Linked DNA regions of Homo sapiens. The protein of the gene in region 2 purifies or fractionates together with the protein of the main gene of each other region. This does not show direct contact. Each region holds a gene or a part of one and is shown on either strand. Other genes may lie near its edges.

Region 1 (5,041 bases), on a different chromosome or scaffold from region 2:
TGCAACCTTGGGCAAAAACGTCTCCGCCTCCTGAAACTTATCGCTGTGGGAACTAAAGAGAATGTATGGACAACATTCGGCATGCTGATCCCACCAAGTGAAAGTTGTGGTTTTACAGCCATGCTGATGGCCTCCTCACTCTACCTACACACGTGCAGGAGGCCTGTGGGACTGACTGCCTCCTCGTCCTTTCCTCCCCAGCCACCTGCGGCCTGAGACAGTACAGCCAGCCTCAGTTTCGCATCAAAGGAGGGCTCTTCGCCGACATCGCCTCCCACCCCTGGCAGGCTGCCATCTTTGCCAAGCACAGGAGGTCGCCCGGAGAGCGGTTCCTGTGCGGGGGCATACTCATCAGCTCCTGCTGGATTCTCTCTGCCGCCCACTGCTTCCAGGAGAGGTAGGGGCTCGGAAACCCAGTTGGTTTTTCCACCCTCTAACGCCTAGAAACCAAGCCCTTTAGGGGAAATCCCACAGCAAAAAAAGCATTCTAAGGCTGTTTCTCCACCAGGTTTCCGCCCCACCACCTGACGGTGATCTTGGGCAGAACATACCGGGTGGTCCCTGGCGAGGAGGAGCAGAAATTTGAAGTCGAAAAATACATTGTCCATAAGGAATTCGATGATGACACTTACGACAATGACATTGGTAAGAGCTCGTCATTCCCGGCTCCAGTTCATACAGATCACACAACACACCCACATGCACTCACCTATGTTTACACACACGGGCCTCCTCCTCCAGCCCCTGCCCCTCCTGCGTGTTCCTCCCCTCCCGGGGACGCGGCCCTCACGCCAGCTCACTCCTCCTTTCTCCCTCCCAGCGCTGCTGCAGCTGAAATCGGATTCGTCCCGCTGTGCCCAGGAGAGCAGCGTGGTCCGCACTGTGTGCCTTCCCCCGGCGGACCTGCAGCTGCCGGACTGGACGGAGTGTGAGCTCTCCGGCTACGGCAAGCATGAGGCCTGTAAGTGGAAGGAAGTCTCGGCCCCATCCTGTCTGCGGGACAGCAGGGGAGGCTGCGGTCCACCAGAGGAAAATGGGGTCAGGAGACCGAAGTTCCAGCCCCGGGTCAGGCACTGACGCCAGTCCCGTCTCCCTGTGTCGTGGGGGCCCGTCTCTGCTGTCTCTGCCTCACAGGGACACTGCAGGCCAGGAAAGGACACAACAGTATGAGGGCCTCGAAGTGCTGCAGGTGTTGGGAAGGTTCTGAGTAGGAAGTGGAGTACAGTCGCTAAGCGTGTGGGTTCTGGGAAGCTGGAGTTACAAAGACCCGATTTCAAATCCCACTTGCTGAGCTGTGTGACCGTGGACATGGATTTTTATTTTGAACTGCTCCCAGCCTCAGTTTCCTCGTTGGTAAAGTGGAGATAGAACTATCTCCCTAATTAGATTAGGAGGGTTAAATGAGATAATATTGAACGAATGGATGTCAGCTGGGGTGATTTTGTCCCCCAGGAAACGTTTGGCGAGGTCTGGAGACGTTTTTGGTTGTTACAGTTTAGGGTGAGGGTTAACGCCGGCCTTCAGTGAGTGCAGCCAGGGATGCTGCACACTGCAGGGCTCGGGACTGTCCCCATCCCCCACAACAGGGACCTCCCTGGTCCGAAGCATCAGCAGTGCCACTACGGAGAGGCTGTGGGTTCAATCCCGGAATCCTGCTGTTTTTGTGGGTCAAAACGATAAAATACCAGCAGTGTCATAGGATTCGACCTAATACATGTTGAATCTTGATCAATGTTAGCTATTATTGGAAAATTTGGCTTTCTCTTTCAAAAACGTTTATAAATAACTTTCCCTAAAACCATATGATGGTTCTCCCCTTTCAGTGTCTCCTTTCTATTCGGAGCGGCTGAAGGAGGCTCATGTCAGACTGTACCCATCCAGCCGCTGCACATCACAACATTTACTTAACAGAACAGTCACCGACAACATGCTGTGTGCTGGAGACACTCGGAGCGGCGGGCCCCAGGCAAACTTGCACGACGCCTGCCAGGTAACCAGGAGTGGCGCGCCCATGCTGGGCACAACCCAGGGGAGAATGCCCCTGGGACAACAGGTTCTTCACCAAAGAAAAAAGTTATCACCAGAGTGGAGTGATTTCCTCTTAGTGATACCCCTGGGGATTCTAGATGAGGGCCTCACAGAATAAAGCAACTGGAGGAAGATCAAAGTCACCTAAACCTAAGAATTCTAAACTGCAGGAAATTTCCCCAGGATCTGCACAGGCAACTCCACCTGTACAGGATTTCCTTTCAGCCCAGGCAATTGATTGACTATTGAAGTGATGGAGAGAGCCACACAATTAAGAAACGTTTGCCTCAGCCTGGTGTGGTGGTTCACGCCTGTAATCCCAGCACTTTGGGAGGCTGAGGTGGGAGGCTCACCTGAGGTCAGGAGTTCGAGACCAGCCTGACCAACATGGAGAAACCCCATCTCTACTAAAAATACAAAATTAGCCTGGCATGGTGGCACATGCCTGTAATCCCAGCTACTCAGGAGGCTGAGGCAGGAGAATCGCTTGAACCCGGGAGGCAGAGGTTGCAGTGAGCCGAGATCGCGCCATTGCGCTTCAGCCTGGGCAACAAGAGCGAAACTCGATCTCAAAAAAAAAAAAAAAAAAAAAAAGAAAGAAATGTTTGCCTCTGTTGGCACTAGAGAATTGGAGTCTGCTTTGTAGAAGGAGAAGGAAGAAAGGCAACTTACTGGGAAGCAGGATCTAGATGATGTGAGAAAGAAGTTTTCAAAACTCACATTCAGCCCTAATACCCTGGGAAAGCACACTATTTGAGGTCCTTTGTGTGGGCATCCTTATCAGAATTAGTACTTATATTTCATGATTAGCCAGATACTGGGGTATGGGAGGACAGGCCAGCCTGCTGGTATTAAGACCTGCACAGAGCCAAGGAATTGATCTTCCTCAGACATTTCAGTGCCTGCAGCGTGCGAAGCTCTCCTTTAGGGGCTGGGGGTAGAAGAGATACAAAGAGAAGTGAGGCCAGGCTCTGGTGCTGAAGGATGTGTGGGCTTTGTTTTCGCAAGGCAGTCATATCGGCGGTTTCCCCTCTGATTCCCTGACAGGATTTAGTTTCTTTTTGAATGGTTTCTTCAGCAACCTCAGCTGTACCAGCTTACAGTCCAGAAACAAAAAGGTTGTACCAAAGTGAAACCATTATCTATCTGCAAGCTTAGTTAAAAGCAAAACCAAATCATTTTAATTCAATATAAGAACAGCTAACAATTACCAAGAGTTTTACTAGATGTCTTCCAGTGCTTTTCATGCATTCTTCTACTGAATGCCATAACCACTCTATGGGTAGTATGAATATTATCTCTATGGTACAGATAAGAAAACCAAAGCATGGTTAGTCTAAGGCCATCAGCTAGTAAGTGATGGAGCCAAGCCAGGGTTTTTGAGGCCTGAAACGTTTGAGTAATTAACTCTACTTTACCAGAATAGATACAGCCTAATCCTCCATGGGACCAAGATAACTGAGATACAATCTACCCACTCTTCAGTAAGTCTCCACTTAACAGCATGCCTGGAAAAAATAGGTTCTTAGAAACTGCAACTGTAAGTGAAATGACGTATAACAAAACCAATTTTACCACCAGCTAATTGATATAAACAAGAGTTGGTCAGGTGCGGGGCTCATGCCTGTAATCCCAGCACTTTGAGAGGCTGAGGAAGGCAGATCACCTGAGGTCAGGAGTTCGAGACCAGCCTGGCCACCATGGTGAAACCCTGCCTCTACTAAAAACACAAAAATTAGCCAGGTGTGGTGGTGCGTGCCCATAAGCACGAGAATTGCTTGAACCCCGGAGGTGGAGGGTGCAGTGAGCTGAGATTGCGCCACTGCACTCCAGCCTGGGTGGGTGACAGAGTGAGACTCTGTCTCAAAACAAAAAAACAAAAAAAAACAAAAAAAGAAGAGTGAAGTTCTTGTGGCAATATTTCTAGTCATAAAAACATCAGCAAACTTCTAAATAAAGACCCAAAACACTTCTAACATTCAATATTGAAATAAATGTGAGCTATACAACATTTAAGAAAGGTTAATAAAAACAAACATGGTATTTATTTACCCAATTTTTGGAGAATAAGTGAATGATGGCGGCCATAATAGTGGTGGGTTAATTCAGGGAATAAATGTTTGCAAAGCAAAAATGGTAAGGAACACCTCTTACTACCATGAAGTTCAAAAACAATCACAAATAGGGCAGGCTCCCTGACTGCCTCCACACCTCACAGTTTATCATGCATTCGTGTATTTAGCACAGACTAGACAGATTTTTACTTTATAACACTTTGTATTCATTCATTTTCCAACGTGCTTATTCCGGTTCAGGGTCTTGGGTGGGGGTGGCCAGAGCCACCTGGCAGCTCAGGGCGCCAGGCGGGACCAGCCCTGGACAGACGCCACCATCCTATTGCAGAGCCACTAACACCCACACTCACTCAGACTGGGCCCACGTAGATACATCCTCAGTTGGCTTAATGTGCAAGCTTTGGGATGTGGAAGGAAACCGGGGTACCTGGACAAAACCCAGGCAGACAGTGTCCCCAGACAGGAATTGATTTTTGTTTTCCTCATCAAAGTTATAATGAAATGACACTGAATGGAATATTATTGAAGGGCCTGCTGTATTTTGAAGATTACGATGTTCATGCTACACATACTGACTTTCTCCAGATAGTCTGCTTTTTTTGCAAACGCCAAACCTGCTATCTCCTTTGCAGGGCGATTCGGGAGGCCCCCTGGTGTGTCTGAACGATGGCCGCATGACTTTGGTGGGCATCATCAGCTGGGGCCTGGGCTGTGGACAGAAGGATGTCCCGGGTGTGTACACCAAGGTTACCAACTACCTAGACTGGATTCGTGACAACATGCGACCGTGACCAGGAACACCCGACTCCTCAAAAGCAAATGAGATCCCGCCTCTTCTTCTTCAGAAGACACTGCAAAGGCGCAGTGCTTCTCTACAGACTTCTCCAGACCCACCACACCGCAGAAGCGGGACGAGACCCTACAGGAGAGGGAAGAGT
Region 2 (5,041 bases):
GGCATTTGGAAGGATATGCCTGTGGCGATGGCTCTACTGATGGGCTTATGATCTTCCCTCCAATGATGGCCTAGAGACCTATTTTTACTGTTGTGAAACAATATTCAAGCAAATGATAATCTTCCATCTTGTTGCTATGCAGTACATTTGGGCAGCACTCTTATTTCTCTCTGATTTGAAAGTTTAAAGTGTAATTTCTCTTAAAAAGGAAAATAAACAGGAGGTTTCTATGTACTTCCCATTATGGCATCTGCTTGTTCCAGAGATCAAGCATTTCAAAGCTTGAGAACTCCAAGTTACTTCATGTAAACGATTGTCTATTTGGACATGAGTGTGTTTCATTGTTAGGAATTATGCAGGCCTAAAGTAATTTATAGATCAACACCCACTCTCCTGGCTACTGAACTTTGGAGAAAAATGAAAGCTTATTCTTAGACACGTATATAAGCCAGGTGAGTTTAGACGAGTGAGCATTTGGCCTAGGAAACCAAGGCCAAGGAGAAGTTCTGCCCAGCACATCAATCAAAAATAGCTCTGATTCCAAGTTCTGCACAGCTCTAACACTGTCCCAGTGCACTTTTATGAAACTGTACATAGACAGCTCTCAAAAACTTCCCAAGTCCAAGAAACCCAGAAAAACACCCATAACAGCTTTCTTCCGTGTCATAGGAAAACTGTTCTTTTAGCGAAAATTTATAATGAAGCAGAATTCTGCTAAATAAGATGGCTGTTTATTTGGGAGACTGTCCTTGTGACTTTAAGACATTGGAGCTGTTAGATTTCTCACTGTCACTGATCCTTTCACCCTGTTTTTACAATGTTTTATATATATATATATATATATATATATATATAATATATATAAAATATATAAAATATATTTATATATTATATAATATAATATATAATACTACATATATATAATATATATGTAGTATTTGAGTCTATCAACTTTAAGCTACCAGAGGCAAAACCAGTTTAATGTTCATGTCTTCTGAATCCAAATTCTAATATTTATTCAAATATTCACTAATCTAGGAGCATTTCTTTGGGGAGGCTTCAGGAGTACAGATTATAGTGGGCCGAATGTAGACACCAGAATAGACTATAATGCAAGAGACAACAATTGAGATGGATGAAGTTGGTCACTGCATTTGGCCATTTGTAAGAAAGATTGTACACAATGTTTTATACTTATGATGACTTTGTGCTATATTAAATTTTAAAGAGGATATTTATTGCTCAAAAGAAAGAAAAGGCAAGAGGGAGGAAGGAAGGGGAGAACACAGTTTCTAGTTTTTAGATGGAATGAATAAAGCTTCCACGGTCATGATTTGGACGCTCTCCAAAGTCCAGTAGGCTCCAGGAAACTCCAGGGATTGTCGTGGCATTAGAGCCAGTCCTAGGTGCCAAAGTCAAAATAGGCCACGCTGGCCCGTTGAGCCCAAGCGGGAGCAGCGTATGTAGGTCACTTACATGTTTTGAATTTAGACGGGCTGAGTTGATACAATTGTTTTACAATGAAGCTCTGGAGAAACACGGAACATTCTAAATCTTTAGAAAAGCGCTTGTTTCACAACATATAAGAAACTTGCAACATCAGCTGGAAGGATGGCCTCAGTGGTTCACAGTGGGGCCCTCTGTGTCGGGGGGCCAGGCAGGGAGTTCTGCGTGTGCCCACAGTCCTTGCTCGATGTGATGGTGGCTCTTCCCTCAGAGAGTGTCTTGAGCTGACCGTGAGGATCAGGATTAAACACAAGCGTTTTCTTAGCCACACTCCATAAACGCTGTTGTGATGCAGGGAAAGATTAATTAATAAAAATAGGAAGTATTTATGAGCCATCGGATTAATCTCACAAGTGTTTATTGAACATCTCCTACGCCCTAGGGTGGGAAGCACAGAAAGTGTGTAGAAAGGAAGGCAAGGAGACACCAAATACGGGGCCAGTTTTGCCTAACACTGTGGTTGTGCCCATGCTTTCCCCCAGAGCACACAGAGACATGATTTCCCCCTCCCTCCAGGTCACCTGTCTCTTAAAAGGCCCCCTTCTGTTTTATTCTCTGCAGTCACCCCTAACCTCCCACACGTAACAACAGAGTGGGACACATTGGCTCCACGGGAGACTGTGCTTAGCAGGAGCTTGGGCCTCTTGGGGAAGAACTGAATTAGCAACATCACGAATGCTGCTTTTGTTTTACCAGCTGCCACTGTTAAGTTCTTACTTAATGAAAGTATTTGCTTTTCCATAAATACATGTAAATTTCCTACCTCTTACTTGTCATAGCCAGAGAAAGCTCTGTGAGTGGTAATTAAGGAAGGAAGCTTCTTTAAAACAAATCACTGTAGTTGAGAACATCCGTGTAAGCAACACCATCCTCAAAATTGATGAATTTACCAATTGTCCTACCCTATTGTAACTTTAAAGCAGTCACTTAAGTTTATTTTAATTAATAATTCTTTAATTTTAAAAGCAGTGTGCTTATGGTAAAAGAATCAAGCGCTTGTGGTTATAAGATAATCAGAGCAACCCGAGGGATTCACTCCCTTGTTTGAAATCCTCCAGGGGTTTCTTGTAACCCTTGGAGTGAAATCCCAGTGCCTTTCCAGGCTCTACAGGACCTTACCAGATCTGAACTCTCCTTCGGCTTCACCCACCTGTCTCCCTTCTTTACGACCTTGATTTCACATCCACACTGGCCTCTAATACACCAAGTTTATTCCCACGTCAGGGCCTCGGCCCTGCTCTCCCTCTGCCCAGCGTACTGTTTACCCATCAGAGTGTGGCTGGCTCCTTCCCCCATTCAGGTCTCATCACGATGTTCCTGCCATAGAGATGGCTCCCTGATCACCCTATCTAATGACCACCCCCCGCACCCTGCCGGCCCCTCATCTGCTCGCATCCCTGTATTTTATCATTGTGCTCTTTATCCTTTTCTGAAAATGCTTTATTGCTTGCTGGCTTATTTTCTGTCTCCCTTCTAGATTGTAAGCTCAGTGCGGGTGAGAGTCTTGTCCATTCAGTTATGTCATATGCCTAACACTTAGAAAAGGGTCCGACACCCAGTGAACCCTCAGTAAATATTGGCTTAATTGGATGAAGGGCACTTATGAGAATTAAATAATGATTAGGCTGAGCATGGTGGCTCACGCCTGTAATCCCAGCATTTTGGGAGGCCGGATCACTTGAGGCCAGACATTCGAGACCAGCCTGGCAAACACAGTGAAACCTCATCTCTACTAAAAAAAAAAAAAAAAAAAAAATTGCCAGACGAGTTGGCGCACACTTGTAATCCCACATATTCAGGAAGCTGAGACGTGAGAATCACTTGAACCCGGGAGGCGGAGGTTGCAGTGAGCCGAGATTGCGCCACTGCACTCCAGCCTGGGCAGCAGAGTGAGACTGTTTCAAAATAAATAAATAAATAAAAATAAAATAACCGAGAATTAAATAATGATTAGTATAGGACCTGGCACATTGTAAGGACCCAAGAGATGGAAGTTTGCTTCCTTTCCCTCCCCACCTCCCCAGGGTGTGTTTTGAAAACTGATTTAATTACACTGTTCTGTCTTAAATATATTCACATGGCATTCAATTATGCTGAGTACAGTCAAGCATACTAGGTGAGTACAAAATGGCCTCGCAGGCCAGGTACAGTGGCTCACACCTGTAATCCCAGCACTTTGGGAGGCTGAGTCAGGCAGATCACTTGAGGTCAGGAGTTTGAGACCAGCCTGGCCAACATGGTGAAATCCCATCTCTACTAAAAATACAAAAATTAGCCGTGTATGGTGGTACACGCCTGTAATTCCAGCTACTCAGGGGGCTGAGGCAGGAGAATTGCTTGAACCCAGGAGGCGGAGGTTGCAGTGAGCTGAGATGGCACCACTTCACTCCAGCCTGGGTGAAAGAACGAGTCTCTATCTGGGGGAAAAAAAAAAAAAGTAGTAAAGTACCCATTTAAGTATAATTTAAATATTTTTTAACTTACTTTTCCAGGTCGTCCTTGGTGGAAGGAACCATGAACTGGCATCTCCCCCTCTTCCTCTTGGCCTCTGTGACGCTGCCTTCCATCTGCTCCCACTTCAATCCTCTGTCTCTCGAGGAACTAGGCTCCAACACGGGGATCCAGGTTTTCAATCAGATTGTGAAGTCGAGGCCTCATGACAACATCGTGATCTCTCCCCATGGGATTGCGTCGGTCCTGGGGATGCTTCAGCTGGGGGCGGACGGCAGGACCAAGAAGCAGCTCGCCATGGTGATGAGATACGGCGTAAATGGTGCGTGTGCACAATTGCTCACTGGCGGAGCCTTTGCCTGAGAGTCTTGTGACAGGAGGGTTTATGGCTTGGTTTTTGCTGACAACCCCAAGAAGCAGAGCAGCCAGAAGGGGATTTGCTGGTGCCACTTGGGGCTTGGGGTCAGTCTCTTCTAAAGAACAAACACTGTGGTGCTGGCAGTTAGGAGAACTAGACTCTGGTCCCTTTTTTGTACTTTTGGAGCTTGGGGTCTGCCACTAGGTCTCCTTTCCCAGGGCTCCAGCCCTCGTTCCAGCGAGGGGGACACTTCCTGGCTTACCGCCTCCATGGCGCCCAGGGTTGAGTTGCGCTGTGATCGTAGATGTGCTTGTGAAGCCTGTGAGAGGAGCTGGGAAGGGGTGGCTGTGGAGGGCCCAGGGGCCTCGTAGTGATGGAGCCATCCTGGGTCTTGATTGTGGTGGTGGCCACACAAATCTGCACAAATGATAAAGTTGCACAGACCCCCCTCCCCAAGCCCACAACAGGAGTGTATGGAAAATGAGTGAAATCTGAATGCACCCTGTGGACTGACCTGATGGAAATTTCCTGATGCAACGACGGTACCACTGGGAAGACTGGGTGAAAGGCACGTGGGACTTCCTTGCATATTGTTTTGCCACTTCCTGTAAATCTATAATTATTTCAAAATATAAAGCTAAGCAAAGACTTGGAACCAACCCGAATGTCCATCAATGATAGACTGGATAAAGAAAATATGGCACATATACACCATGGAATACTATG

The links. The genes of interacting proteins can lie anywhere in the genome.
Region 1: the proteins of SERPINE2 (region 2) and PLAT purify together in Homo sapiens (affinity purification with mass spectrometry; one large-scale study listed by BioGRID and IntAct). This does not show direct contact.

Annotation. Positions count from the first base shown.
Region 1 is NC_000008.11:42,175,846-42,180,886, reverse strand, and holds part of PLAT (tissue-type plasminogen activator isoform 1 preproprotein), read left to right. Parts: intron 1-201; coding exon 202-397; intron 398-508; coding exon 509-645; intron 646-820; coding exon 821-961; intron 962-1,823; coding exon 1,824-1,990; intron 1,991-4,735; coding exon 4,736-4,894; 3' UTR 4,895-5,041. UniProt on the Homo sapiens protein: Converts the abundant, but inactive, zymogen plasminogen to plasmin by hydrolyzing a single Arg-Val bond in plasminogen.
Region 2 is NC_000002.12:224,000,880-224,005,920, reverse strand, and holds part of SERPINE2 (glia-derived nexin isoform b precursor), read left to right. Parts: intron 1-3,998; coding exon of another isoform or gene 3,999-4,020; coding exon 4,021-4,279; intron 4,280-5,041. UniProt on the Homo sapiens protein: Serine protease inhibitor with activity toward thrombin, trypsin, and urokinase. Promotes neurite extension by inhibiting thrombin. Binds heparin.